Homo sapiens: one gene and its partners. The protein of the gene in region 3 interacts with the protein of the main gene of each other region in a pairwise test. Each region holds a gene or a part of one and is shown on either strand. Other genes may lie near its edges.

Evidence for each region.
Region 1: the proteins of RTP5 (region 3) and KRT86 interact in binary tests that used the Homo sapiens proteins (3 or more experiments, as listed by UniProt).
Region 2: the proteins of RTP5 (region 3) and TSGA10 interact in binary tests that used the Homo sapiens proteins (3 or more experiments, as listed by UniProt).

What each region holds. Positions count from the first base shown.
Region 1 is NC_000012.12:52,277,645-52,284,667, forward strand, and holds part of KRT86 (keratin, type II cuticular Hb6), read left to right. Parts: intron 1-1,296; exon of another isoform or gene 1,297-1,512; intron 1,513-7,023.
Region 2 is NC_000002.12:99,067,920-99,074,942, reverse strand, and holds part of TSGA10 (testis-specific gene 10 protein), read left to right. Parts: intron 1-1,869; coding exon 1,870-1,925; intron 1,926-3,068; coding exon 3,069-3,237; intron 3,238-5,944; coding exon 5,945-6,055; intron 6,056-7,023. UniProt on the Homo sapiens protein: Plays a role in spermatogenesis. When overexpressed, prevents nuclear localization of HIF1A.
Region 3 is NC_000002.12:241,864,817-241,872,729, forward strand, and holds the start of RTP5 (receptor-transporting protein 5), read left to right. Parts: upstream 1-4,912; 5' UTR 4,913-4,940; coding exon 4,941-5,098; intron 5,099-6,897; coding exon 6,898-7,913.

The DNA.
Region 1 (7,023 bases), on a different chromosome or scaffold from region 3:
GAGTACTGAGAGCTGTGATCGTCAAGTGGGGCCTGGACTTTGAGATTGCTGCCTGCCACAAGCTGCTGGAGGGTGAAGAGAGTGGATGATGGGTCAGCTGGGAAGTGCTTCAGATGTGGCTGCAGTGAGGAGTGCAGGGGCACAGGGCAGCACCACGCTCATCAGCCAGGGAAGGGTGGAGAGAGATGACCTAGGTATCCAGGAACTCGTTCCTCTAGAGCTAGGTTTCTCTCACCATCTTACAGCCCTTTGAACAAAAAGTTCTAGCTGATGTGTACTTTTGGCACCTGGGACGGGGTGACCCATAGTCATCCACCCCAGTATCAGAGACCAGGGGCCGGTTTGTCCATGGAGACAGCTGCAGGGACCAAGGCCTAGCCAGTGGGAATAAGGTCTCTGTGTGAAGTGCCTTCTTCTCAACTCTGCCCCTCTCCCCAGGCCTGGGGAAGGTGGGGTTACATGACCAGGTGGGGCTTGGCTTTCAACTCAGTAGACAACAGTAGGAGACAAGGGCTGTCACCAGGCTAGGGGAGGGAGGGGGAACTGATCACCCATGCCACAGGCATATTGCATTGATCACCTCCTTTAACACCTCACAAAACCCTGGCAGGGAGGTCCTATTATCCCCATTTTACAGATGAGGGGTAAGTTTCAGAGAGGTTAAGTGACAGCTTTAGGGACACACACTAGTCTTCAGATTATGGAGCTACCTGCTCTGGGGTCTCCTGTAGAGGTTTAAAATGTTCCCTCACGGTCTCACCTTCCAAGATCAAGTCAGGCCAAAGAAAGTGTAGTTTTTTTTTTTTTTTTTTTGGTCTTCTCTTTCCTCCAAAAAGTCATCAACAAAAGTGAGTTATATGAATTTAAGGCAGGAGTGATCAGAGAGCGCCAGGGAGCTTGCAGGGTGGAAGGACTGCTGTCTGGGAGGGTCAGGAGTGTGTGTCCTGGGGAATGCAGAATACCAAACCTAGTAGACAGATGGACTCACCTGCTTCCTTCTTTCCGCTGGCTTGGTCTGGGATTTGGGGCAAGGAGCATCAGTAAGTAAACAGTAGGCTGGCATGGTCGGATCTTATCTTATTATCTTATTCTCCTTATTCCCTCCTTCCCCGTCCACACCTTGGCGTGCCTCCTCTTGAGAAGGCAGAAGGGCTGTGTTTCTGTTCCTGTGTCTGTGACAGCTCCCTCTGTGCCTCTCCTTTTGTCGGGGGCTATTTCTTCTCTCGGGGGTGACTGCGTTTGCGTGTGTGGGGAAGGGGGTCCTGTGGTCTGTTCTCTGGGGAGAGGTCTGTTTACCTGTTCCTTTCGGGGAGTTTGTACATCTGTCTCCTGGTGGGGAGGAGGGTCTGTGTATCTGGAGGAGATGTCTGCAAGTCTGTCTTCTGGGGCTTGGGGTGGGGGGAGGAAGGGCTTTCCTCCCTCGGACAGTCGTCCTCCGTTCAGCCGGGCTCCGCCTGCCTGCTCCAGCCCCGAGCAGGCTCCGGCGCCCTGGAGACGAGCGCCCCTGGCGGCGGCTACGCGCTCTGCGGCTCTCCCGGCTGTGTCCGTGGGCTTTAGCTACACAGCTCCCGCAGATGTTGAACCCTTCCCGCCTCCCTCCGGAGAAGACAAGGAACCCTCAGCTTCTGCCCTAAAGACTTAGCCCTCTTGTGTCAGATGCCCCCTCCCATAGAGCTGACCCCACATCATCTTTCCTTTTTGCCTCCCACACCGGGACGTGAGGCGTTGGAGCACAGCTTACAGGACTATGACTGACCATCCCCAGTGCAGATGGCCTGGACGCTGGTGCCATTGGGTAGAGGTGGCCAGCTTACCTGGACCAAGAACCCTGCCCCTCTGAACTGTTCCCACCCCTTCTTTCCAGGGACTTCTCTGCAATAAAAAGTTGTGGAGTGGTCTGAGCTGCCAGGAGTTTAAACCCGGATTCTCCAGGCCATTCCCAGAGCACAGACAAACCTGGCTGCGGTGGAGGGGTCAGGGCGAGAACAGTACCAGGAAGCAACCTCCTCCCCTCCTGCTGTGAGGGTCTATGTGACTTAAGTATATGATGATTCGATATTATAGAACCAGAGTCTTTAGGATGGGGAGCCCGGAGTCCATGGGGAAAGCGAGAGAAAGGGTTCATTCATGCAGAAGAGTCTAGCCTGGGGCCCATAGCTTCTGGGCAGCAGAGCTGAGAATTCCATTCTCCATCCATCCATTCACTCTACACATACTTACTGAATGGCCTCATAGTGCTTGGTTCAGGGGACAGGATGGTGAGGAAGACACTCTAGGATTCCTGGAGATGAGGTTCTGGGTAGGGAGGTGGGCCATAGACGAGGAAACCGAGCAGAAACAGAAAAGGGTGAGATGGGGATTGGGCCAGTGCCTTCTATCACCCTGATGGGGCATTTGAAGACAGGTGGCCCTTGCAGATGGGGGCTGGAGAGAGATGAACACAATTGGGTGGCCCAAGCTTGGGTTCTGGTTTAACACACAATTGGGCCACCGAGTTGTGTTAATATGATCTGGTGGCGGGCAGAGGAACAACACACTATGGTGGAGGAAATTGTGGGCTGTGAAATCAGACGGAGGCTCCAGCTCTGTCTCTACTTCAGATCCAGGGTGTAAGTTGGTCCGAGTTTTTACAAGGCATTGGATTTTGGTGGTCGGAAGATAGAGTGGGGTGGCTAGATAAAGGCTGGATTTCTGGGTTCTTTCCCTGCCACACAGACCCAAGAGAAGCTTCTGTACAGTGAGCCCACATTCCTTTCTATTGCATGAAATTACATCATCAATGCAACAATAGTTTCTGCTTTCTATGTCCCTGGGTGGGGCTGAAGTGCGTCATTGGCCAGAGGCTTGGGCTTTACTTTTTAAGGCACTCTAGTGCCAGAGTGTCTGCTGTGTTCTTCTGGGTGCCTGCCCAGAGGACAGGTATCCAAAAGGCCCTCTTCTTGTGTAAACAGAAAAGTCTCATGCAAGAGGAATGGGACTGAAACTTGGCTAGCCGGATGCCACCCTCCTGAGGGGTAGGGGGCATGACCCCACTGGGCTCACACATCAGCCCTGGTTGATAAATACTGACCTGCCAACACTCGCAAATGCAAACAAGCTGCCTGAAGATTCTTTCAAGATTCTTTAGTCCAGCTCTGTGCTCCTTGCATTTTGCTAGGGGATCATGAGATTCTCTGCTATTCAAGCCCAATTTTCTCCAGCTCCTGCTATGATGATCATGTCAACAAGGGAACTTTGTGGGAATTGTAGGCAGGATCTAGGATGTACATTCTGCAACCTGCGTCACTCAGGACTGTTGCTCACATTTTCCCTTTTCAAATACCGAACCTGGACTTGCCTGATGTCAATCCAGAAGATCCCCAGGGCTTTGGGGTCAGGTTTGAGTTTCTTCCTGGGCCAGGGCCCTGTGGATCACAAGCAATGTTTGTGGTTTGGAGACTAATTCCCTGAGAGGCTCCCCTGGCCATGGGCCACATTCCAGACTGGGGTGGGAGGAAACTGCCCAGTGCATTTATGGAGAGTCATTCCCCAGCCCATTTATAAGCTTTGTGAGTCGGGTGGCTTCTGAAGGGAGGAGGGCTGTCCTCAGTTCAGTCATTGCTTCTCAGCAGAAGGGCACTATAAGGTGTGAGTCCTCTGTTGGCTCTGCATGCCTGCCTCACACTCCGTTGTATTTAAACATGTCAGATGCTAACTTGGCTGTGGTCATGTCTCTATCTGAGCCCCAGGAGGGCAGTGAAGGTCTCATCCATCCTCAGGGTCTGCCACAGAGTAGATGTGATGGGGTTGAGGCTGCATGGTCCTGGTTGGTGTGTCCTGTCCTGAGATGTATTGGGCCCTGTTTTTGACCATTGGCATGTGGCATTCTGCATAACCCCTTGGAAGTCTCTTGTGGAGTCTAAATGCAGTCCTTCCTGCTGTGATTTCAGCTGTAAGAGATCAACCAGACCAGCCTGGAGTAAGGAAGGAAGGGCCTTGATCCTGTTCCCAGTCTTATTCTTACCTTGTCCAAACTCTTCACCTGTTTCTGGGCCTCAGTCCTGCCCTCCTCTAGATCTAAATTGTGAAGATTCTTTTTTTCCTTCTTATTTAATTTTAAATTTATTTTTGTAGTGATGAAGTCTTGCTCTATCACCCAGGCTAGAGTGCAGTGGCAGGATTATAGCTCACTGCAGCCTCAACCTCCTGGGCTGAAGCGATCCTCCTGCCTCAACCTCCTCAGTAGCTGGGACTACAGGCACATGCCTCCACGCTCTGCTAATTAAAAAAAAAGTTTTGTAGAGATGGGGTCTCACCATACTGCCCAGGCTGGTCTCAAACTCTTGGCCTCAAGCAATCCTCCTGCCTCAGCCTCCCAAAGTGCTGGGATTACAGATGTGAGCCACTGTGCTTGGCTTTCTTTTTCCTTGTTTTCTTCCCTACTTAGTCCCTCTGAGCCAAAGGTTAGCTGCAAAATAGAGTAACTATCAGAGGGTTGTTTGAGAAAAGGTATTGCTGCATGTAAAGTGCTTAAAGCATAGGAAGTTATGTAAGTGTAACTATTATTTCACTTACTGGAATTCTTTAGAAGGTTTTTGAGCCCCCTGAAACAATTTTTTTTTTTTTTGAGACAAAGCCTTGCTCTGTCGCCCAGGCTGGACTGCAGTGGCGCAATCTTGGCTCACTGCAAGCTCCGCCTCCCGGGTTCACACCATTCTTCCGCCTCAGCCTCCCAGATAGCTGGGACTACAGGCGCCTGCCACCGTGATGGGCTAATTTTGTTTTTGTATTTTTAGTAGAGACGATGTTTCTCTGTGTTAGCCAGGATGGTCTCGATCTTCTGACCTCGTGATCCGCCCGCCTCAGCCTCCCAAAGTGCTGGGATTACAGGCGTGAGCCACCGCGCCCGGCCAAGTTTTGAGCCCCTTTAAAGAAAGCTCTCCAAAGTCCAAGGGTGGCTGAACTCCATCTGCCCCACCTGGAGTGAGAGTGACCATAGGGCAGGAGGAATAAGTAGGCAAGCCTAGGGGTTAGAGCAAGGGCTCCTTGGCCAGAGGGCACCTCCCTAGTATGACCCCCAGCAGCATCTGCCCATCACTACGCCCACTTTAGCCCCACTCCCCATCGGTGACCCCTACCTCACCAGCACACATGGGTCTACCCATGTACCCACACTGCACTCACATCCACATGTACCCACAAATCTCCCTTTTTCAGCACATAGATGCACACATGTCCACCATGTATAATCACACATTTAGAAACCCTCACCATCTCTCTCACACACACGTTTCCACACAGGTGCCTGGAATGTGCATGTACCTGGATGCAATCATATTGCTCCACTCGCAGTTACCTCTAGGCATTGAGCAATGCAGAATGAATATACAAACAACATGCGCATACACTGCACAGTTGCATGAAACCTGGACTCCCCATTTCCCTCTAGCCCCTAATCCTGTCCCACCTCTCCCAAAGAATAACAGAGTTGACTGGGTGCGGTGGCTCATGCCTGTAATCCCAGCACTTTGGGAGGCTGAGGTGGGTGGATCACAAGGTCAGGAGTTTGAGACCAGCCTGGACAATAAGGTGAAACCCCGTCAGTACTAAAAATACAAAAATTAGCCCGGTGTGGTGCAGGCACCTGTAGTTCCAGCTACTTGGGAGGCTGAGGCAGGAGAATTGCTTGAACTAGTGAGGTGGAGGTTGCAGTGAGCTGAGCCTGCACCACCGCACTCCAGCCTGGGCAACAGGGTGAAACTGTCTCACAAAAAAAAAAAAAAAAAAAAAAAAGAATAATAGAGCTTTAAATTGGTAAGGGATGTTAGTAGCCACCTAATCCAAGCATTTTTTTTTTTTTTTTTTTTTTTTTGAGACAGAGTCTCGCTCTTGTTGCCCAGGCTGGAATGCAATGGCGCCATCTTGGCTCACTGCAACCTCCACCTCTCAGGCTCAAGCAATTCTCCTGTCTCAGCCTCCCAAGTAGCTGGAATTACAGGCACATACCACCACGCCTGGCTAATTTTTTGTATTTTCAGTAGAGATGGGGTTTCTTCCTATTGGTCACGCTGGTCTCAAACTCCTGACCTCAGGTGATCTGCCCACCTCGGCCTCCCAAAGTGCTGGGATTACAGGCGTGAGCCACCACGCCCAGCCCCAAACATTGTATTTCATTAGCAGATACACTAAGGCCCAGAGATGGGAGGTGACTTGCTAAAGGTCACACAGTGAGATGTTCCATTTTCTTCACCATTCTGCACCCGGGGCATTATGTGTTTGATTCCTTCCCGCCTTGCTCCTCTGTCTGAGCCTGTGCAGGAATGGGAACCTAGAGGGAGGTGAGGATTGTGGGGCCGGAGTAGGAAGGAAGAGAGGGTCAGAGCTAGAGGGAGAGTGAGGGAGTGAAATACGGCAGGTCACTAAGGCCCAGCTAGGCTGAAGTTGGAATAGGTGAGAAGTCCATCAGGACTGGAGTTGTAGTTGGCTTCTGAACTAGGGAGGGATGGAGCTGGTGCTTGAGTCTCAGGTCTGGACTCCTGACAGGGGCTGCTGCTGCTGCTGCTGCTTCTTGTTTTTTTATTTTTTTGAAACAGGGTCTTGCTGTGTCGCCCACGCTGGAGGCAGTGGCACAAACATGGCTCACTGTGCGGCTTCAACTTCCTGGGCTCAAGCTGTCCTGCTTCGGCCCCCTAAGTAGCTGGGACTATAGGTGCACACCACGTCGCCCAGCTAATATTTTTATATTTTATAGAGATAGAGTCTCACTGTATTGTCTGGGCTGATCTCTAACTCTGGGGCTCAAGCGATCTTTTCACCTTGGCCTCCTAAAGTGTTGAGATTATAGGTGTGAGCCACTGCACCTGGCCTAGGGCCAGCTTCTGAGCTGTGTGATGTCACAGCATACAGGGCTGGTTGGAATGATTGATCACAAATTCTGGAACTTTCTAGGATTGTGTCCCTCTCAGAATTCCATCAGGGGTGGCTGAGAGACCTTGGTTTGATTCTAGCTTTTACAGGAGAATTTGTTCTTTTCAGTCCACTCAC
Region 2 (7,023 bases), about 140 Mb from region 3:
TCTGTCACCCAGGTTGGAGTGCAGTGACACAATCTCAGCCCACTGCAACCCTCGCCACCCGAGTTCAAGTGATTCCCTGCCTCAGTCTCCTGAGTAGCTGGGATTATAGGCGCCCACCACTGCACCCGGCTAATTTTTGTATTTTCAGTAGAGATGGGGTTTCACCATGTTGGTCAGGCTGGTCTCAAACTCCTGACCTCGTGTTCCGCCTGCCTCACCCTCTCAAAGTGCTGGGATTACAGGCATAAGCCACCGCATTCGGCCTCAAGTAAAGACTTTCAAAAGCACTAGTTCAACTAGCTTTTCAGAATTTGTTTAGAAATGTATTAAATTATATTTCAAAAATGTGTAAACATTCCATTTTATGGAGTATTTTGTCTTTTAGTTTTTCCTTCGTTGGCTTGTCCTTCTTGAAGGGGTTTAACTTTTTTTTTAATGCATATTTTAACAACACACCAGTATCTATTACTGCCAGATGTGGAATCTGTACCATTCCATGAGAAAGCAGAATGGGAAACTGTAGCTAAAAATACCCTGGAGAAGAGCACATGAATAAAGGAAGATAGCACACACACACACACACACACACACGCAAATATGTGTAAAACTAACGCTAAAGAAATAGGAACGGCCGGGCGCAGTGGCTTACGCCTGTAATCCCAGCACTTTGGGAGGCCGAGGTGGGTGGATCACTTGAAGTCAGGAGTTTGAGACCAGCCTGGCCAACATAGTGAAACCCCGTCTCTACTAAGTATACAAAAAATTAGCTGGGCATGGTGGCGCATGCCTGTAGTCCCAGCTACTTGGGAGGCTGAGGCAGGAGAATCGCTTGAACCTGGGAGGCGGAGGTTGCAGTGAGCCGAGATCGCGCCCTCGCACTCCAGCCGGGGCATCAAGAGCAAAACTCCATCTCAAAAAAAAAAAAAAAAAAAAAAAAAAAAAGAAAAGAAACAGGAACAGAATTGGTTGGAAAATATAGGTTTGGGTTTTTAAAAATCTTTTTACTTAGTTACTTAAAATTTGAAAATTCAAATGGCAAGGTGAAATCTAGTTATTACTTAGTGAAATAACTTTCTTACTTTTTTAGGGCTAATGTTAGCTCTAAGTATCTGTTTATAGTTGGACTAGTTCAGGGTCAATGGAAGTTTTAAAAAGAGGTGTGGGAATGGTATTAAAGGCATTAAGATATTCAAACCCATTTCTGCCTTGACTGACTCCACTACTTCTACTCCCTCATCACGCCTTTGAAAAAGGAAAATATAGTTTATTTCTCTTACCTTTGCTCGAGGCCTAATGCTTACCTTCTTATTAGCTCTCACCTAAATATCAGTAGTATACTTCTATAAGTAATTGGATTGGAACAGCTTTTTGAAGATTTTGTTGCTGGCTAATATAAATAATACACTTAATCAAAATTATTCTTAAAAACTAAATTTAGGTATACATGATTGGCTTCTCTGGGTTTTATAACATAAAGAATGTGAGCAAGAGAACCAGTTCTAAATCCCAGTATAAAATGCCAATACTCCAATGCCAAACCATTGGTTTGCCTCCAAAAACAGGTGGTTATAGGGTTCTTGTATTGCTGGGTGACTGCATAAAATATCTTTTGACAAAGAATTTGATATACTGATCTCATAATTACACCTAAGTATAGCCTTTACTTTAATGAACATAATCTATTTTTACCCAGTGCAAATATTCACATTGATATACTAGGCTTTAAAGTGTGGAAAAGAATAGGACATACATGTTTTTAAAACCAAATGGAAACCTAAAGGGAAAGGGAAATTTTCTTTTTGTTCATTCAATTTTAACAGAAATAACAGCTTAAGATTTTTTTATTTAATACTTATATTATTTTTCAAGGAAAAGACCATTTCAGGCATGAAGAATATCATTGCTGAGATGGAACAGGCATCAAGGTAAATCAGTCGTGCAACAAATATATGAGCTCTTACTGGGGGGCCAAGTACCATGTTAGGTACAAAGATAGTAAGAAACAAGGGGCTTAATGATACGTGTAAGGTGCTAACTCTCTCATCAAAGGAGGCCTAAGTCTGTCTAAGGAACTAAAAGAGGGGATGGTGTTTGCCAAGTAAAATAAGGGGAAGGGAAGGGCATTTAAAGTAGAAAGAATAGCAAAGAACCACAGATCATGTTGACAAGCCTCTTGACCTACAAGTGGGTGAGTGTTGTTGAAACCTAGAGTGTAAGGGGAGAAGTGAAGGGAGGAGACTAAATAGGCAGGCAGAGGCTTGTGTAACAGACAAATGAGTATTGGTTATATCCTTTGGGCAATAAGAAATCATTAAAGAATTCTGAGGAGAATTTTGTGTTAGAAAGATACCTAAGCAGAAGAGGTGGTGATAAATTGGGGTTTAGGAGTTGTGGGACAGAAGGAGTGAAATGCTTTTGTATGAGGGAGAGACACCAGGAAAATGCCAAGTTTCTGGCCAGGGACAAATACTGAACATGAAGAAAGTATGAGGAGAAAAAATGATTTTACCTCTGAATTTGAAGAACCTTTGGGACCTTATTGTAGACATGTCTAGTAAGCAGTTAAATATAAGTCTGGAGTATAACAGAGGGTCTAAAACTGGAGATAATTATTTTGGAGTCATTGGATCTAGATGGGGTTGGGAACCATGGATATGAATAGAGTTTGTCTGAGAGAAGGGTTAGAGTGAGAATAATTGGGAGGCTAGGGCTTGAGCCCTGAAAAGCATTAATTTTTAAGTGGGCAGAGGAAGAGGAATCTGTAAAGGAGACTAAGCCATAACAGAAGTAGGATGAAAGCCTTCCTAATACTTGATGTAAGAAGTTTTGAAATATTTGGCAAATCATTGACTATTATGTATACTTTGTATCCTTTTCATAGCGAAATGATGGCAACATTGAGAAACTCTAATGCACTGTCTTTGCAGTATTTATTCCTATAAATTCAAACGTGTTTAAAATCTCTTCAAATGTTTTCATACTAACTGTCCATCTTCTGTCTTGTGAGAATTTGTTGCTCTGTTTCAGTAAAATGTCTCTTCTTATGTACTCTTTGATTTGTGGAATAGACAGTGTACTGAGGCCCTAATTGTGTGTGAACAAGACGTTTCCAGAATGCGTCGGCAATTGGATGAGACAAATGATGAGCTGGCCCAGATCGCCAGGGAAAGAGATATCTTGGCTCATGACAATGACAATCTCCAGGAACAGTTTGCTAAAGCTAAACAAGAAAACCAGGTACACTTGTTCCTAGAATCATTTTCTCCAAGAAAAAAAAATATGAATTTCTTGTGAGGAACAGCCCTCATTTTATTTTATAGAAGAGCTCAGACACTGGAACTAGCCTTTTCTTTTTTTTAAAAAATAACAAAATAGGCCACATAATTTTTAAATGGAATTCTCAGACACAAAGGGTTAAATATTAAAGAAAAGAGAGAACAGGGCTATATTTGTATTAAAGCTTAGTACTTCCTTGCTGAAGGATAAATATTTGAATAATCAAAAAATGAGAATAAAAACCTTGAGAAACCTTAAAGAAAAGAATAGGTGTTTTTTTTTTAAAAAAATGGACTACATATTATTCTGTTTTAAGTATGAATGTATGGACTGTGCCTTGTTTTTTGGTTCTCATTAGCACTGTGATTCTTTTTAGGAAAGTTCCTCTTATAATTACTCTTTCTCCCTAAGGCAATATATTTAAGTCTAATCTGCAGTTCTCATTTCCAATAACATTTATTTTAACGTGAACATTTAAAAATCCTATTTGGAAAATTTCTTCCCTTCTCAAAATTTTTAAGACCAAATGGTTTTCCCCACTTTGTATCACTTTCAGTGTGTTTAGTTTGCATCCTGAAAGTCTGTGTTCTTTAACTGTTGAAGATTATTAATTTACTTAAACAGCTATAAAGCTGTAATACTTTGTTAATCATAAAAAATTATCTGAGATGTTAAAGTATTTTGTTTAAAAGTAAATGAATAATGGGATCCTGGAATAGAAAAAGGACATTATGTAAAAAAGGAAAGAAATCTGAATAAAGTATGGACTTCAGATAATAATGTGTCAATATTGGCTTATTAATTGTGACATATGCACCATACTAATGTAAAATGTTAACAATAGAGGTGCCCTTTATAATGTCTTCACAACTTTTCTGTAAATCTAAAACTATTCTAAAAGTTTATTTAAAAAATTAATGAATAGCAATAAAAACCAAAACATGGGAATTTGTAAGGTTTGCCTTTGTGTACTCTTTACAGCTAGAGCATATGGGCTAAAGGTGGATATATCTTATTTATGAAAACCTAGAAATTTAGTTTCTATTTTTTTGATTGGTTTAGAAATAGAAGCTTATTATAGAAAGTCTTTTTTCTAAACAAAAAGTTAAGAGTTTAGAAAAGCCCCCATGTTTTTGATACTCAGTTACTGTTATATTTGACATATTTTTTTAATTGCTATACAGTGCACTTAAAAATTTTAACACTATTTTTATACACATTTTCTAATGTAGTGGGATAAAATCACCTATCACTTTAGATCATGCTTTTTTCTACATGAAGAGGCAGTAGAGTCGAGTAAGATTCACATGGGTTGAATCTTGCTCTCTGCGTGTGTGATCATATAAACCAACTTCTCTGAGTCTCTGTAGCATCTGTAAAAATGGTTAATAAGTGAGACTATACCTGGAAAGCACTTACTGTACTGTCCAGTATATCACTCAATAAATATTTTATAGCTATTATTAGCTTACTATAATATTGTAAGCATTTTCCTGCCTTGTTCAAACTTTGTAAACATTTTTTATAATCAGAAGAAAACTGTTGTCATAACAATTTACATATGCTCAAAAGTAGTTTTTTCTTCGTTATGGTCATAGGCCCAAGGTAGAAGAGAGGTCTCTCTCTGTGGACCACAGGTTAAGAACCAGTATTGCAGAAGACGAGAAAGTGGAAACTTAAAAAAAATTTATCCTTGATACCACAATTTTTAACAAATTGGGATAATGAGGTATTTTTGTGTTTTAGCACGATTTTTTTTTCACTTAACATAGGCAAATATTTCCCTGTATTATTAAAAATCATTCCAAACATTTCTCACAGGTATGTAATATTCCATTATGTGGTTATGCCACTATGTAGATATACTATTATTTACTGCATGATTCACTTAATGTGAATAAATATTGTCACTGTAACAAATGCCTTAATGACAGCATCTCATTAAATTTTATTAGATTTCATTTCAGAGTGAATCACAGATTATCAGGTTTCTTTTTAATTATTATTTATTTATTTATTTATTTATTTATTGTAGAGTTGGGTTCCCACTATGTTGTTCAGGCTGGTCTCAAACTCTTAGGCTCAAGTGATCCTCCCAAAGTGCCAGGATTACAGGAAAAACACCCAGCTGAGGTTTCTTTTTTAAATTAAAAAAATGTAAATAGACATTTTCAAATATAATGAATCCCCATGTGCCATTTCCCACCTTCAAAAATAATCAACATTTTTGTCTTTCTTGTTTTTATGAGCATTTAAAAATTGTCTCTTGATACATCACCAGATTCCTGATCACAGATTTGCTTTCTGCAAATCTACATTTACTCCAGTAGTACATGGAAATGCCCATTCTTTACCATAGCTGAATAGCTTTAAATCTTTATTAATTTGATAAGCAGAATAGTAATGTGTTGTTTTAATTAGCATATCTTCAGTTGCTAGTAGAGTTTTTTTCAGGTCTTACCTACTTATGCTTCCTTTTTTGAATTGCTTATTTGGGTCATTTGCCCACTTGCTATTGGGCTTATGTGTTTTCTTTTTTTATATGAGTTTATATATTAGGTATGTTAATTTTATTTGTTCCAAGTGTTTAAAAATTTGTTTATGGTATTTTTGAGATATAGAAATTTTTTATTTTTCATAGTCAAATATACCTATCTTTTTTTCGTAGGCACTGTCCAAAAAATTGAATGACACTCATAATGAACTTAATGACATAAAACAGAAGGTTCAAGATACTAATTTGGAGGTTAACAAGCTGAAGAATATATTAAAGTCTGAAGTATGTATTTTTTTTTTCTTTTTGCTCATGATACTTAGTTTTCACTAGAGTTAATTTAGAAGTTGGTATACTCAGAACGACAGGTGAATCAAAGCTTTCTTTAATACATAGTATATTTTAGTTTTGACAATGGTGGGTTAACTACATATTTAGAATGTTCAGAAAGATGCCTGGAGAATATGCCCCTTTTGTTTTGCAACTCTGCCACTCTAGACAAGCAGAATCTTCCTAACTGGATGATGGACAAAGGGCTAAAATCAATTTGACCTCGCTTATAATTAATTGAAAGTGGTGGGGTTTCCAGTTATAAACCTCTGACAAAAGAGGTTCCACCTGATTATGTAGCAGATCAGAATTGGTTACCCTGTTATGGGACCATCTATTTTTTTTAGGACCACAAGGCAGATGGTTCTCCTCACACTTCTCTGTTAGCAATCATTTGACCAGGCACATGTACATGACATCAGATGACTCCAATAAGTGTGGTGCATGTGTGGCAACTCAGGAATAAACAGGCAGCTTTACTGAGGATTTTAGATATGTCTATTAGGTAAAATATTATCTAAAATTGAGGGAGGATGTTCCCATTAATGGTTTGAGTGGTATGTAGGTAACACTATACCTATTATAATAATCAATCCACCTATACTATTTTATCATTTCATGTCAGTCCACAAACATATCTTGAACATTTATTTATGGTATGCATAGTACTGTTAAGGGCTTTGAGACAGAAGAGATTCTAAGGATTTCTAAATTGCAATCCTTGCTTTCAGGCAGCAAGCAGCCTGTGTAGGAAAAGCACGTGGTTTCCTACACTTCCTGATTTTAAGGTTCCAGCAATGTAATACCATAAATGAACAAAAGGCTTTTTATTTATGCAGGCTACTCAGCCTCTCTGATTCTTCCCATCTGTAATCGGGAAGAACACCCAAGTAAGTGAGATAATTTAAAACACCTAGCACAGT
Region 3 (7,913 bases):
TTGTGTGGTGTGTGTAGTGTGTACGTGGTGTGTGGTGGGTGTAGTGTGTGTGTGGTGTGTGTAGTATGTGTTGTGTGTGTTGTGTGGTGTAGTGTGTGGTGTGTGTGGTGTGTTGTGTGTGTGGTGGGTGTAGTGTGTGTGGTGTGTAGTGTAGTGTGTGTGGTGTGTGTGTGGCATGTGTGGTGTTTGGTGTGTGTGGTGTGTGTAGTGTTTTTATGTAGTGTGTGGTGTGTGTCGTGTGTGTGGTGTGTGTCGTGTGTGTAGTGTGTGTGTGGTGTTTGGTTGTGTAGTGTGTGTGGTGTGTGTACTGTGTGTGGCGTGTTTGGCGTGTGTGTTTGTGTGTGGTATGTGTAGTGTGTGTGGTGTGTGCGGTAATGTGTGGTGTTTCTGTGGTGTGTGTAGTGTGTGTTTGTGGTATGTGTAGTGTGTGGTGTGTGGTGTAGTGTGTGGTGTGTGTGGTGTTTGGTTGTGTGGTGTGTGTAGTGTGCGTTTGTGTGTGGTGTGTGTAGTGTGTGTGGTGTGTGTACTGTGTGTGGTGTGTGTAATGTGTTGTGTGTGTGTAGTGTGTGTGATGTGTGGGTGTGTGTGTAGTGTGTGTGGTGTATGTGGTATGGTGTGTGTGCTGTGTGTGGTGTGTGTAGAGTGTGTTGTGTGTGTAGTGTGTGTTGTGTATGGTTTGTGTGATGTGTGTGTAGGGTGGTGTGTGTTGTAAGTGTGGTGTGTGTAGTGTGTGTGTGTGGTGTGTGTAATGTGCGTTTATGTGTGGTGTGTGTAGTGTGTGGTGTGTGTAGTGTGTGATGTGTGTAGTGTATGTAGTGTGTGGTGTGTGTAGTGTGTGGTGTGTAGTGTGTGGTGTGTGTGGCATATGTGTCTTGTGGTGTTTGGTTGTGTGGTGTGTGTGGTGTCTGGTGTAGTGTGTGGTTTGTGTGGCATGTGTGGCATGTGTGGTGTTTGGTTGTGTGGTGTGTGTAGTGTGTGGTGTGTGTGGGTGCGTGTGGTGTGTGTAGTGTGTGTGGTGTATGTGGTATGGTGTGTGTGCTGTGTGTGGTGTGTGTAGAGTGTGTGTGTGTAGTGCGTGTTGTGTATGGTTTGTGTGATGTGTGTGTTTGGTGTGTGTGGTGTGGTGTGTGTAGTGTGTCTGGTGTGTGTAGTGTATGGTGTGTGTAGTGTGTGTGGTATGTGTAGTGTGTGTAGTGTGTGGTGTGTGTGGCTTGTAGTGTGTGGTGTGTGTGGCGTGTGTGGCATGTGTGGTGTTTGTGTGGTGTGTGTGGTGTGTGTAGTGTGTGTGTGGTATGTGTAGTGTGTGTGGTGTGTGTGGTGTGTGGTGTGTGGTGTCCTGTGTGTGTGTGGCGCCCCTGCCTTCTCACTCCAGGGCAGTGGGTGTCACTCAGGCCCCTTGCTGGTCCCCCTGCTGGTCCCCCTGCTGGGCTCCAAAGCCGAAGAACCCGGGCTGAGCTGCGCGGGATGCTGAGCTGCGCGGGATGCTGAGCTGCGGGGGGATGCTGAGCTGCGGGGGATGCTGAGCTGCGGGGGATGCTGAGCTGCGGGGGATGCTGAGCTGCGGGGGATGCTGAGCTGCGGGGGATGCTGAGCTGCGGGGGATGAGCAGCGTGAGTGAGCGGTCCCCCAGGGAGGGATGCTCCGAGGGCGAGTGCAGGAGGTCCCTTGCATTCCTCCTTCGGAATGGCCTCCCCAGCCCCAGCAGGACTGCGGGTTGGAGGGGAGAGCAAGGGGCCTCTTGGACAGTGGAAGCGCTTTCAGCAACAGAATGGCTGGACAGAGGCTGCGTCCCCCCACCAGCTGCCGGTCCTGGGATCCCTGCCCGCCTGGGCAGCGCTGGGGCAGAGCCACACGGAGCCTTGGGCCAGGAACAACCCCTTGCCGGTGGGGCCTGTGGGACTGCAGGGCCTGGGGTCTGGGAGGCGGCCTTGTCCCTGCCGCTGCAGCCACGAGCTGAGGTCTGTGTTGGGAGGGTGAGCCCCAGCTGAGGTCTGTGGGGGGAGGGTGAGCCCCAGCACCTGCGAACGGCCACCGTTCTCTGCTCGGCTCCTTTTCCTGCCCGTCTCTTTCTCCCTCTGAGCAAGGACCACCATCCCGTCAGCCGACCGGTCCTCTGGCCCCACCGGGCCTTGGCGTTTGCTCCTCCCTCGCCGGGAGCTGCTGCCTCTGCTCCTCCAGGCCCAGGCAGTGCATCCGTTCTGGCAGGAGACTGTGGTGGGACTCACCTGAGCTGCAAGTTCTGCTTCCCAAGGGAGGGCTGTCCCCGGCCTGCCAGCTGCCCTCCCCAGAAGCTGAGCTCAGGAAGACGGGTACCAGCGTGTGAGGAAGGGGCCCCAGAAGGAGCGCGTGTCTGCGGGGAGAGGGAGCGCTAAGCCACCACACCAGGTGGGCAGCAGTGCTGAAGGGGCACCCGGCTTCCCCTGATCGTTTCTTTTCCCTGTGGCCCAATCTCCCACCCCCATCTCACCCTGTCCTGGAGCCAGCCTTCGGGGAGGCTGGGCAGGGAGCGGGGTCAGAAGGCGTCTGCCCCAGGCCTGGGTCCTAGGGCCTGTCCTTGGAGGGACCACACATGCCTGGAGAGAGGCTCCAGTGGCCGGCTCCAGGTGGGCGCTGATGCAGAAGGCCCAAGGAGGACCCTGCCACATGTTGCAGGGACCCGTGGGTGCTGTGCACAACCTGCCTCATCCATCCCCGCCGAAGAAGAGGGGGTGCTCATGGCTGGCTGATTTGTGAGGGGGCCACGTAAGCAGCTCTTGCAGGGCGTGGCTTGTGGGTTTGGGAGACAGACAAATGGGCAGTCAGACAGAGGCGTGGACAGGATGCCCTCTCTGCTGTCTGCCGCCCAGGCCTCTGGAGGTGTTCTGGGATGGGTCTAAGGAAAACTCAACAATTCTTGAGCGAATAATGCCCGGGCAACCAGCTCCCTGCATTTCATAAGGGCCGGAATTGCCATCCAAAAGGTTATTTTGGGTGACTGTGGTCAGTCATCATTCCAAAGCTTTTCCCTAAACTCAGAGCCAGGTGTGGCCTCCAGGGCTGAGGAGCCTGAGAGGTGGGACTGGCAGGCAGGGCTGTGGCCCCAGCGTGGCACGGAAGCAGCCAGGAAACACTGGCTCTGGGGGGCTGTGGTGGGAGGAGGTCCTCTGCAGGGACCCCTGTGGACCGAGGCTTTTGGAGGCAAGTGGACAGTAGGTGTCTCTTAGACCCCTGCGGGGGCACACGACCAGGACCACAAGGGGCCCACACACGCACAGTGGCCCGGAGCCAACCAGCAAACCCCAGGACCTTAGATACAGCCCGGCGAGTGAGTTAGGATTGCTCCGGCTAGCTGTGTGATCATCCACAGTGCCAGAGAACAGTGCCTCGAGACCACAGTGGCAGCTGGCTTACTTCTCGTGTGAACAGGAAACCCAGAGGTGGGCGACCCTCCAGTGGTGTGACGACTCCATCTGTCACCACAGCCCCGGGCTCCCGCCTTCCTGCTCCTTGGGCTCACAGCTCTGTGCTTGAGGCAGGTCTAAGACAGGCTGGAGTGCGGCCATCATCCCAGCACTGATGGATAGAAGAAAATGAAGCTGGGATGAGAAACGCGGGGCTTTCCCTGGCAGTCTGGCCCTGTATGGAGGCCCCTTCCCAGAGTGCGTCCCACTGGCTTCCTCTTCTATCTTGCAGTCACACCTAGCTGCAAGGCGGGAAGATGTCACAGGTTTGAAAGGGCCGAAAAGAAGGTTCAGAAATGAAAACTATGACAAGGCGCTTGCCAGCATTAGCTGCAGAGTCGACAGAGACGAGGAGATAATGTGTGAAGTGGTAGAAAAATGAGAAGAGATTGTTCAGTGTGCAGGGCAGAGAGATGGCGAGATGGGAGCTGTGAGGAGAGCCGGGTGGCCGGGAGCCTCCCGGGGGCAGATCTGTGCTGAGGTTTTGCAGGGATCAGCTGGCTGTCTCCGCCCCTGCACGTCCCGGCTCCTTCTCAGCTCACCCTTTCTTGTTGTGCCATGACAGGTGGCTGCCACGCACAGCAATGCTGTTGAATCTCAGAAATTAAACAACCTGAAAAGGCGTGAGAAGCTGGGCACATGCATGAATTGTTTATGTAAAGCTCAGAAGCTGCACAGCTAAAGGGCTCGGTGAGGGAGGCATCATAGGTGTTGAAGCCTCAACGTTGTCTGTGCAGGCACGGCCAGGCTGGTGGCACCTCTGCCAGGAGGGCAGGGGGTGGGGGTGGGGCCGCGGGCTGAGATCGGGAGGGAACAGGCAGCCAGCTCTGGAGGCTGGCAGAGCGAGGTTTTGTTTCTTCCTATAGGACGTGGTGACTTAAGACTTTAGAATAATTTGTGAAGCTCTGCATTTATGTTTTAGGCATTTTATGTAAATATTTTATATTTCTCACTAGTAAAAAGTTTAAGAGAATACACCCACGGGACAATCTGCAATGATACACGTTCTATAAAGTTCTTCTCAGCTTTGTTTGTGTGAAAAGCATTAGTGCTGTTTGCAGAGAGAAGCTGAGTGAATAAGTTACATGATAGCCACAAGCTGGAAAAATACCAAGTGTTCAGCAAGGGATGAGTGTGGGCCACCGCTCCTGATGTGCACTAGAAAGAGAGGGCTGTGGATGATTCCTTGGTGCGATGTGTGAAAACACCCGGGCCTCTACACGCACGGGTCTGGGGAGGCCCCTGCGTGTCCACGGGCCCACGCCCACCACCACCACCACGGTGCTGCCACAGGGATGCTCTCTGGGGGGCGGGGTCATGGGAGATTGCATTGTATTGTATTTTTCCTTTCTGCTTCCCATTTCTCGGAGACAAATCTGGTTGCCATGGAGACCATGCTGTTGTCAAGGTGGCTGATTGGCCGGCGCGGGATGCGGGGACGTTTCCTTGGGCCCCCGGCGGGCGCAGCCCTCAGCCCACACTGCGGAGCCAGGCGGCAGCATGGACCGGGCTGGGGCAGACATGTGGGCCAGCACCTTCACCCTGGCCATGGCCGAGAGGAAGCCCCAGGACGTCTGGGTTCTGCTACCTGAGCACAGCCTGGTCCCGGGATGCCTGGACGGCGGTGGTGTCCAGTACCTGCTGGTGGGGCTCTCGAGGTGCGGCCAGAGGTTGGGGACCCTGGGAGAGGCAGGGGGCTGAAGGTGCTTTTCCACGGGACCTTGGGTGGTCCCAGAGGCTGGGTGGGGCTGTTGGGCCTCGTCTTGTCCCCGAGACGGGAGGGTGGGGCTGGGTGCTCCTTCTCCCGCCGGAGCCCCTGCCTCGCCATGCTGGGCACACGGCTGCTGACGCAGGGGTCCCGGGGAAGACATGGCGGGTGCCTCATGGAGAGTTTGGTTTCCCTCACTCGGCTCCTTGGGCCAGCGCTGCCCTTGGACACAGGCTCATCTCCTGCTTCCATGGCACTGCCGTGGTCTCGCAGCCATCAGTGCTGACAGGTGGGCCCTGGGGCGTGCCGGAGCCTGTGGTCACCATCCGGCCCTGTGTTGCACACAGCGGGGTGCTCGGCCCTGATCGGGGGCCCGGGGTGGCTGTGGGTCACAAGTGAGCCTCACAGGCCGTCATCACGGTTGTGGTGCCGTCAGCGCAGCAGGGCGGGCGCCATGCGCTTCTCCAACTGGCAAGGCATCCACAGCTCGGCCGGGTGCCAGCTGGGAGGGGCGCGGGGCAGCTCCACATCCTCGCAGATGCCCGGCCTGACAGGCCCCCAGGCTGCTGGCTGGTCCGTCCCTCTGTGGAGACACCCTGGGCAAAGGGGGAGTCGTCCTGCCCTTTGACACAGCTCCTCAGTGCCTGAGACCCCTGGGGCCAGGTGTGTGCAGAATCCCAGCTTTTTCAGAAGCTGGGAAAGTAATAACCCGTGTTGGGGTCTGAGAAGTGCTGGGAAGCACATCACTGTTCCCACAGCCAGGTGGAGATGGCTCTGAGCGGCTCCCAGCTGGCGGGAGAGAACTGAGGACGGCTGCCCCAACATGCAGCCCCAGCGCCCGTGGCTTTGGCTCCTCAGTCCCATTTAAATAAAGTCAGCAGTTCAGTTCCTCCAGCACGAACGTGTCCACGGGCTCTGTGGCCAGTGTGGTTGGAGGCTGCAGGCAGGGCAGTGTGGCTATAGAACATTCTGTCATCCAGAAACTTCCACTGCCTGGAACTGAATCATAGCCTCTCACTCATGCAGGGTTCCCTGAAGCTCACAGCTGCTTGTGTGGCTAGCAAATGGTCACCGGTCTGATGACCGCCATGGACAAGCCAATCCCTCCCAGTGCTCTCCCCAAACCTCTCCTCGCCTGGTGACGCCCAGCAGGGCTGCCCGGGCCATGACCGCAGGCCTCCGTGACATCCTTCCCCTCAGCTGGCAGGCGACCTCCTGGATCGCCTCCTCTCAGTCAGGACAGGGACCCCCACTTGCTGAGCCCCCAGGGACAGCCCCCACATGCATGCTTTTCCCCTCCTAAGTGTGTCGGCAGGCCTGCCTCTTCCTGTGTTAACCCCAACTCACAAAACACCAGCAGAGCCACGCAGGTGGCAGGCTGCCGACGCCTCACGGAGGCCAGGCTGGAGCGGGTTTTGTTGAAAAACTGCTGAGAGGAGGTTTGCTTTGCTTCTCAGTGCTCCACATGAGGGGGCTGCGGGCTAGTGCGCATGGGCCTGCTTTTGCCTGTGTGTGGCCGAGGGGCTGGTGGTTTCAGAGCCTCGGCACAGGCAGGAGCAGGTGCTAGGCTGCCTTGGCCGCGGCCCTGGGTGGCTGGGGGGTGAGGTTTGAGGTTTGAGTGTGGGATGTGAGGCAGGGGGCAGCGAGGCGCTGGGGTCGGATGGGCAAGGAGGCCGCAGAGCAGAGTGCGAGGGCTGGGCGTGGGGCCTCTTTCTCCTGCACTCACACACACTTCTTTCCCCGCCGCAGGCTCCAGTGCGGTCACTGTCCGGGGACCTGGGACTCGGCCCATGTGCACGTCCTCTTCCACCTGTGGTGGGACAGGGCCAGCCACCGGGGGCTGGTGAAGATGCGCATCTGGGGCCAGCGGTGCAGGCTGTGCCCCGCACCCGGGGACTGCCAGGTGAGGCCCCCGGGCGAGCAGCCCTTCCTCAGCAGGCTGGTCTTGCACATCCTGCAGGACTGCTACGGGGATGGCCCCGGCCCAGCCCGGCACCCCAGGGAGGCCTATGAGGGCTGCTGTGAGGCCTGTGAGCTGGGGGTCTGCTTCCTCCAGAAGGCCCCAGACCCCGCCTGGAGCGCCAACGCCACAAAAGGCAACTTCCCCGCCACGGCCTGGGGTGGCACTGGCACCGTCTCCAGGGGCAAACCGCTGTCCACCCCTGGCGACGACCTTGGCAAGGGTGGCGTTGTCATCGCCATCCCCTTCTCCCTTGTGGGTACCAGCAATGACCAGGTGCCCATCGCTGAGGGCCCTGCCCCCCCTGCGGGGGCCTCTCTCCCTGTGACTGGCAGCTGTGAGGCCCTGGTCATCGGCCAGGGCTCCATCTTCCTGTCTGGGGATTCAGTGGCCATGCCTGGGGGCAAAGGCTTCCCGGTGGCCATTGGAGACCCCCTCTTCCACGGCCCCGGCCTCCTCGGCAGCAGCATCCAGACCTTCGAGCTCAAGGGCTTCCTCTTCAAAGGCCGGGGCTCCCTCTGCAGCCCGGTTGGCGTGGCCCAGGGCTGGGGCCCCATCTCCCTCAACAATGGCCTCGTCCCTGTGGGGAAACACACGCCAACCGTGTTCTACTGTGTGGGCCTCTCGGCCAGCGGGGAGGGCTCCCTCACCTTCCCCTCCTCCCTCACCAGCATCTTCACCAACACCCTCTCGGAGCCCACCGATGGCCCTGTGGCCACTAAAGAGGCCTCCATCACCTTCCCCTTCATCTTTACTGATGTCAAGGATGCCGTTGCTGAGGTGGCTGAAGGCAACGGGAAGGAAG